Homo sapiens: one gene and its partner. The protein of the gene in region 2 purifies or fractionates together with the protein of the main gene of each other region. This does not show direct contact. Each region holds a gene or a part of one and is shown on either strand. Other genes may lie near its edges.

Evidence for each region. The genes of interacting proteins can lie anywhere in the genome.
Region 1: the proteins of SLX4IP (region 2) and AJUBA purify together in Homo sapiens (affinity purification with mass spectrometry; 2 studies listed by BioGRID and IntAct, with this or other methods). This does not show direct contact.

What each region holds. Positions count from the first base shown.
Region 1 is NC_000014.9:22,975,964-22,979,615, reverse strand, and holds part of AJUBA (LIM domain-containing protein ajuba), read left to right. Parts: intron 1-394; exon of another isoform or gene 395-579; coding exon of another isoform or gene 580-683; exon of another isoform or gene 684-1,009; intron 1,010-1,170; coding exon 1,171-1,272; intron 1,273-1,514; exon of another isoform or gene 1,515-1,789; intron 1,790-2,773; exon of another isoform or gene 2,774-2,903; coding exon 2,904-2,971; intron 2,972-3,097; coding exon 3,098-3,160; intron 3,161-3,652.
Region 2 is NC_000020.11:10,620,243-10,623,894, forward strand, and holds part of SLX4IP (protein SLX4IP), read left to right. Parts: intron 1-1,071; coding exon 1,072-1,172; intron 1,173-2,416; coding exon 2,417-3,137; 3' UTR 3,138-3,652.

The DNA of each region.
Region 1 (3,652 bases), on a different chromosome or scaffold from region 2:
ATTCAGAGATGGGGGCCCCTTCTCCTTGGGAGTCAGGTTGCCTCCTTTGACAGAACCCCTACATACCCCTTGTGCCGCTAGCCCCAGCTTGACTGTACCCTCCTCCTGCCCCTAGTAGGGGCCCTCTTCCTTGGCTTCAGCCTTGCCCAGCTGCCAGAGGGTGGGAGCAGGACAGGCCTGGGCCCATCAGTTGCTGCAGCTGCTGCACAGGCTCCCAAGCCCCTGGGCAAAGACTGGGATGGGCCCCAACAGGCAGGGAGTGTGGCAGCGTGCCGAGGGGGAGAGGTGGGGCAGGCCCGTTGGGATCTGCTCCCCAAAGACAGGCCCTAGCCCTCACTCATGGGCCTGGAATTGGGGAGTGGAGGGAGGGAAGAACACACCCAGGAAAGGCAAGTCCCAGAGCCAGGTGTATATATCTTAGTGGGGGATTTTGGGGAATAGCAAGCAGTTCAGTTCTGTATTCTTCCCATGATAGAAGGTGACTAGGAGGCATCAGGGGCTCTGCTACTCTCCCTGCTTTCCTGTTCAACCCTGGTTCCTGGAACACACCCTGCATTCTCAGCAGCCACCTCCCCACAGGAATCATGCTCACATGGTCCCCTCTGCACGGAGCCCTCTGCCAAGCCAGATCCTTTTCTCCATCCTTGGAAGTCTGCAGTGGAGAGAAATCATTCTATAACTGAACAGCTCGTTTGACTGATGGGAAACTGAAGTCCCAGAGACGATTTCTGGGCCTAGCCTGCTTTCTCTAGAAAGTATTTTCAAGTCTGCTGCTGAGCACCTGTGGACTGGCATCTTTGACCGTTCATCCTACACACTGCAACAGAGATCATACCTTGCCTGTGTAGTCTTTTCTCCCCAACAGAAACTAAGCATCTGAATGCCAGGGACCATATCTTCGACTTTCTCCAGGTTTCCTTAGGTAGTGGTGCTGTGTTAAGCACAAAACAGATGCTCAGAAAATATCTGTTGAGTAATTAAATAAACAAGAATGGATCTGCTCAGCCAAGATCTTGCTGCATCTCATTACTCGTTATCTTCTCTACTCAGAAGGGAGCCCATCAAAGGGAGACTGTGACCCCTGGCACATCAGGAAAGGGCAGTCAGGAAAGCTTGGGAATCCCTGGTTTTGACCTGGGGGAGTAGAGTGTGACACTTTTCTCTTCTCAGGCACCTGTATCAAGTGCAACAAAGGCATCTATGGGCAGAGCAATGCCTGCCAGGCCCTGGACAGCCTCTACCACACCCAGTGCTTTGTTTGCTGCTCTTGTGGTGAGTGTAGCCCCAATACTCAAGCACTCCCCTCCCCTGCCCACATACACACTTACAAGTGCTATGGGGAACAGGAGGAGAGCTTGTGCCTCTTCATTTGCTCACAGAGCAGCTGTTGGATCCCCACCAAGTGTCTGGAGGTCCGCAGCTGCTCTGCCTCTCTTGCTTCCCTGTCTGTCCTCTACTTGGCTCTCCCTCCGCCTGGTGGGTCCCCTTTCTGGAGTCCCTCCTTCCTTCCTCACCTCTGTTTCTCCCTCTCGTGCTTCCCTGCTTGCCCATCCTGGACTTGCCTGGCCCTCCAGCTTCTTGGTGGGGCTTGGTCTTGGGCAGCCAAGTTGCCTGGGGCGACAGTGAAAGACTGGAATGTGGGGAGGGTGGGGGCAGGCTGGGGGAGTGGGGAGCTGTTTGGGGCGGAGAGGGGGGTTTTCTCTTGGCTGGTCAGAGTTCAGCCACCTCACTGGAGTGCAGGCCACCGGGCCATGCCAAGCTGATGACATCACGCTCCAGGAATGCCTGCCACTGTTAGCTCAGGAGGCCCACTTGGAAAGGGGGGATGCTCCCAGCGGCCTTAACTGCCCCCCTCCCCTCCCTCATTACCCCCTCCTTACTGCTTACCCATTCTGATTCCTTTGCTAAACCTTTAATCTCCTATCTCTGCCTGTCTGACTTCAGCACTCAGCTTTTCTCACTCCCCCAGTTTCTGCCTGGTTCTCTTTAGGCTCATCTGTCTGTCTATCCTTCTGTTTACAGGGCCTCTTCTGGCTATATCTCTTTCCCTATCTTTCCTCCCCTGTGTCTCATGAGCTTCTAAGTCAGCTTTCCTAACCCACTGGACAGAGTTGGAAGTAGGGATTTTGAGGGGAAGAAGGCAAAGGTGGGAAAATTGCTCATGCTCCACCTGTTCTCACTCCTTCCCTATCCCTGATAATGTAGACACCTGGGAGCAGTTCCTGGGGGTTGGTCACATGGGGAATTGTCCTGCCTTGTCTGCTGGAAGAAGATCCTGGGTTGTCTCTTACCCCAGTGACTCTGGGTCCCTCTAAGCTTAGGGAAGCAGCCTTATACAAACAGGAGAGGGGACCTGCTTTGCTTCCAAACAAAGCACTTTGTCCTTCTGCAGTAACTCCAGTCCTGACCTCCATGGAGTCTGTCCCTGGAAGGAGACAGGCATTTGAGAGCAGGATAGATATGCTCAGGCAAAGAGGCTTCTAGGTTGAAGGGTCCCAGAGGGAAAGGCCTGTTAACAATGTGGTTCTCTCTATGCAAATCATATAGCACCTTATTAAGAGCTCACGTATTCCAGCACGTAGTTGGCTTTACTCTCCCAGGTGGCTTCCTATGCACTGGAGAGGAAGGCAGTTTGTTTAGGGGAGGGGCCCTAGAAAACTGTTAAGGAGGCAGGAGCTGGAGGAGCAGCAAGCAGAGGAGAGGGGAAGTTGGCTGGAATGAAGCCAAAGCAAATTGGAATTGCATCAGATGGAATTTTTGTGCGGGGAAGGACAGACAGCAGTTAGGAGGAAAAGCACAAAGTCCAGGTTTAAATATATTATGCAGCAGCGGGGAGCAGTGACCCCAGAAGTCTTGCACCTGGGCTGTGGGATAGGTTCCAGCCCCTTCTCTATTGTTTCTAGGGCGAACTTTGCGTTGCAAGGCTTTCTACAGTGTCAATGGCTCTGTGTACTGTGAGGAAGATTATCTGGTGAGTAAGGGTCACCTGGACCTGGAATTGGTTTCCATACTGACCCCCTTCTTGGTGGCCCATTGGAGTACCACCCATCATTCTCAGTTTGATAACAGCCTCCGTTCGTCTTGTCTTTTACTTTAGTTTTCAGGGTTTCAGGAGGCAGCTGAGAAATGCTGTGTCTGTGGTCACTTGATTTTGGAGAAGGTAAGTAAAGTGCTTTCAGCTGAGAAGTCTCACTGTGAGGCTGAGGAGCGGGATCAGGGACTAAATGGATATTGAGAGAAGGTTGGGGAAAGAAGCCTGTCACCAGATGAATCACTTTCATCCCATTCCTCCCCAGAGCAACTGTTTACAGTGGCTTCCCTCTGCCTATGGGATCAAGTCTGGGCTCAAAAGCCTGTCAACCCAGGCTTCTATGACCTAGCCCCTCCCTAACTCTGCAGGCACAGCCAGGCCTTCCAGCCTGAGCTAGGAGTGTGGGGTCCTGAGTCTTTTTTTTTTTTTTTTTTTTGAGACAGAGTCTCGCTCTGACAAAGTGGAATGATCTCGGCTCACTGCAACCTCCGCCTCCCAGGTTCAAGTGATTCTAGTGCCTCAGCCTCCCAAGTAGCTAGGACTACAGGCATGCGCCACCATGCCTGGCTAATTTTTGTATGTTTAGTAGATAAAAGGTTTTGCCATGTTGGCCAGGCTGGT
Region 2 (3,652 bases):
ATGAGGAGTTAACACCTTGTATGGATTATCTACTTGATAACCAAAAGGAGAAGAGATTCCAAAAGCATGAAATGGGTTAATGTTGGCAAGGTAGGTAGGCTTTTACATTTTATAATTACTTCCTTATGATGCTTCCATGGGAACACAAAAGGCTAGATAGGCAGATAATCTATGAATTATATAAAACCAGAGTGGTGGTTAGTATAAGGAAAAAAGTCCCGAATTTTTTGGTAGCCAAGAATCACAAACTACAGTTTTCAAAATACCAATATTAAAAGATTTGACTGTTGCTATGGTCTTGGGTGTGATAAAATATTCTTTTTTTTTTTGAGACAGAGTCTCGCTCTGTTGCCCAGGCTGGAGTGCAGTGGTGCCATCTCGGCTCACTGCAAGCTCCGCCTCCCGGGTTCACGCCATTCTCCTGCCTCAACCTCCCAAGTAGCTGGGACTACAGGCATCTGCCACCACGTCCCGCTAGTTTTTTTTGTATTTTTAGTAGAGACGGGGTTTCACCGTGTTAGCCAGGATGGTCTCGATCTCCTGACCTCGTGATCTGGCTGCCTCGGCCTCCCAAAGTGCTGGGATTACAGGCGTGAGCCACTGCACCCGGCCACAAAATATTCTTTGTTTTTGCAGATAGAGAAAATATGGGGAATTCTTAGGATGATAAGGGTGTAGACCACTGTGTCACCAGGTCTTGCTAGAAGAACAGAGCTCACAGGCACGTTGCCCCACACAGTAGGATTCTGGGGCTTTTGTCACAGCCTGAGCCTCACAGATACCAGATATTGGCCAAGAGTTCCCAGATGGTTTGGAATCAACATTATTTGCCTTACAGTTTTGTATGTTTATGACGCATGTTAATGTATGAAATGTGGACTGGGAGTCCAAAAGAAGTTACAATTAACCATAAAGTCCTAGGTAAAAAAGGTTAAAATAGCTTACCACTGAGCAGTTTCATTCAGTCTTTACAAAAATAAATGTGTTCATTGGGGCATTCAGAGTGTAACTGTTTTCTCTCATGTTCAGCTAATAGATTTCTGGTTGAACCTTTGTTATCTTTTGGAGTAGACAGAAAGAGTTCTCCATGGAGTGTCTGATTACTTTGCTGAGTGTGCAGAGAGTTCACTTCCTCCCAGTGCAAAGCTCCGGAGAAATGCTCTGAAAGAAATGTAGGTGCAATGTGTTTCCTTTTTCTCATTTTTGCCTGTCTCTATGTATGGATAGATAACATGAAGTCCAGAATTAAACAGAGTGCCTGGAACTGAAGCACAAACTCCCCTCCGTCACGTACTTACTCTCCCCTCCCTCCTGACTCTCTTGCTTTCTGGACAATAGGGATAGAATCCTTGCTTCACAGGTGTGTTGCAAGGAGTAATTAATGACACGTTCTTTGAAGATGAAAAGCACCTGTTGGTGGTGTGTTTCATACCACTTTCGGAGGGACTACAGACAGATCTAGAAAAAAAAAAATTCCTTTCCTAGGATCCTTGTTCCGACTTTAATATAATTACGATAATCCTCATGCTCCTGGTGTCAACAGTAAGAACATGAATATTACATGTATTTGTTTTCACACTGAAGCTAGCCGAAATAAATATTTCAGCTTTCAATGTTTTGGTGGTTGAGGAAATTTCTTGCCATTCACAAACCTGTAAATATATGCTGAAGTTAACATCTTTAGTCTCTAATTCTCCCTGTGCAGCTTCTATCCTGCCCCTCAAAGTTCACTTTATCATCAGAGTGAAGTTACATTGTCTGTTGTGCACGCTGTAAGGAGCAAGGGGCTTATATACAGCTATATCGACACTCTTTTGTCTTCCACGATTGTATTTTATTGCCTTTCATGCTGACTATCTGAAATTTCTTCCAGGACATTTCAAATTATATTAACTAAGTCCTACTCCCATTTGTTGATCAAGTTTGGTCAACAAACCTGATACCAGCTAAATGGTGGTTATATTTGGGTAACATCTTGAAATAGCCTGAGAGAAATTCCAGAAGATTTTTCTTTACTCACAAGTAGAAATTGTGTGTATGTGTACATTTGTGTACACAGAGCCTGAGTCTACTCCTGGAAAAAAAAAATCAGTATATAGGCAGTACTGACCCTTAACATTGGAAATGAATACCTATTTACCTTAGTTAAAATGTGAACGCCATCATAAATCCATTTTTAACCCAATGATTGATAAGCAGTATCATGTATAATGGAATATGTGAAGGTTTTTGCTTGATTCAGTCTGCATTTAAACATACACCTGTGGTGGGGAGTGTTTCCAGATTTGCTGGGGAAGCGAGAGGGCAGGTAGTGCCTGCCTCCTTTTTCAGGTGTAGGAAATGTGGTAGAGGGAATCTGGAGGAAACAGTGCAGTGACAGCTTTACAAACCATAAAATCATTTTTGTTTGTTTCAGTGTGAAAAGAACTGAAACAAAAAGCAGTGTCACGAGCAAATCGCAGACCAGAAGAGACACTGTGGAAACATCTAGTGACTCAGTGATTGCAGAGATAGCAAGGAGGAGGAATGATGGTCAGGCTTCCTCCAGTCCCCCATCAGAATCCATGGGACAAGCAAAGGATTCCATAAAGGCAGCTGAGAGCCACTGGGGGCTTCCTGTTCAAAAGCTGGAAAAAGTTAATCAGACCCAGCCAGAAGACACTAGTGGCCAGCAAAAACCTCATCCTGGGGAGCGGTTAAAGACAGGGCTTCTAAGCAGGAGCCCCGTCTGTAGCTGTGAGTCAGCATCACCATGTCCAAAACAAAGTCCACGAGTGGCCAAAACCCAACAGAAACGCAGGAACTGCAGCTCTGCGGAAGACTTCGACCACCACGGGAGAGTTTCTCTTGGAAGTGATCGATTAGTCCCGAGAGAAATAATAGTGGAAAAAAGCAAAGCTGTCAGGGTTTTGCCAGCTTCAGAGTTGTCAGATCCAGGGTTACTTTTGAAACAAGATTTGGCAAAAACCACGTCTAAGGAAGAGTTGCATGTTTTGGAAAGTCTCTCCTCCAGACATCTTATGAAAAATAACCCAGGGCAGGCACAGCAAACCGGCTTAGCCACAAACACTGAAAGATTATCTACAATTCAGAACAGCCCAACCAAGAAAAGAAAGAAATACGAAAGAGGCCATTAACACCGAAGAGGTTTGTACCGTTGGAGTTGAGGACATAGTGGCCAAACCTGTGACAAGAGAGCTGCGAATATAGATGCCGGGATTTTAAAGGAATTAATTAGAATGACTAATTTAAATAGGAAGTGTGTTATCTGTGTTATGGCTATGGTTTGTTTTCAAAGCATTTCAAACCGGGAGGCTATATGCTTGTTCTAACAGCGTTGCTTCTTTATCATTGTATTTTATGACTGTCTTCAGAGAATTAGTAATGACAAAGAGCCATCCACCTTGTCAGGGAGGAGACTGTGCAAGGACTGCATGAAGAAACTGATCATGAGCCCCTTCTTGGCACATCACTGTGCAGACCACACAATGGACCGTGCAAAGACAGTGCTGCCGTGCTGCCTTTCAGCTCCAGGGGTACAATCCATCCCCCTGCTCCTCAGCCTGAGTAGGAGGGCAGTGAAAGAACAAGCTAGTGGTTCTTAGCGCGTGGTCCTGGGACCAGCTTCGTTGTCTGGAAATGTGCTAGAAAT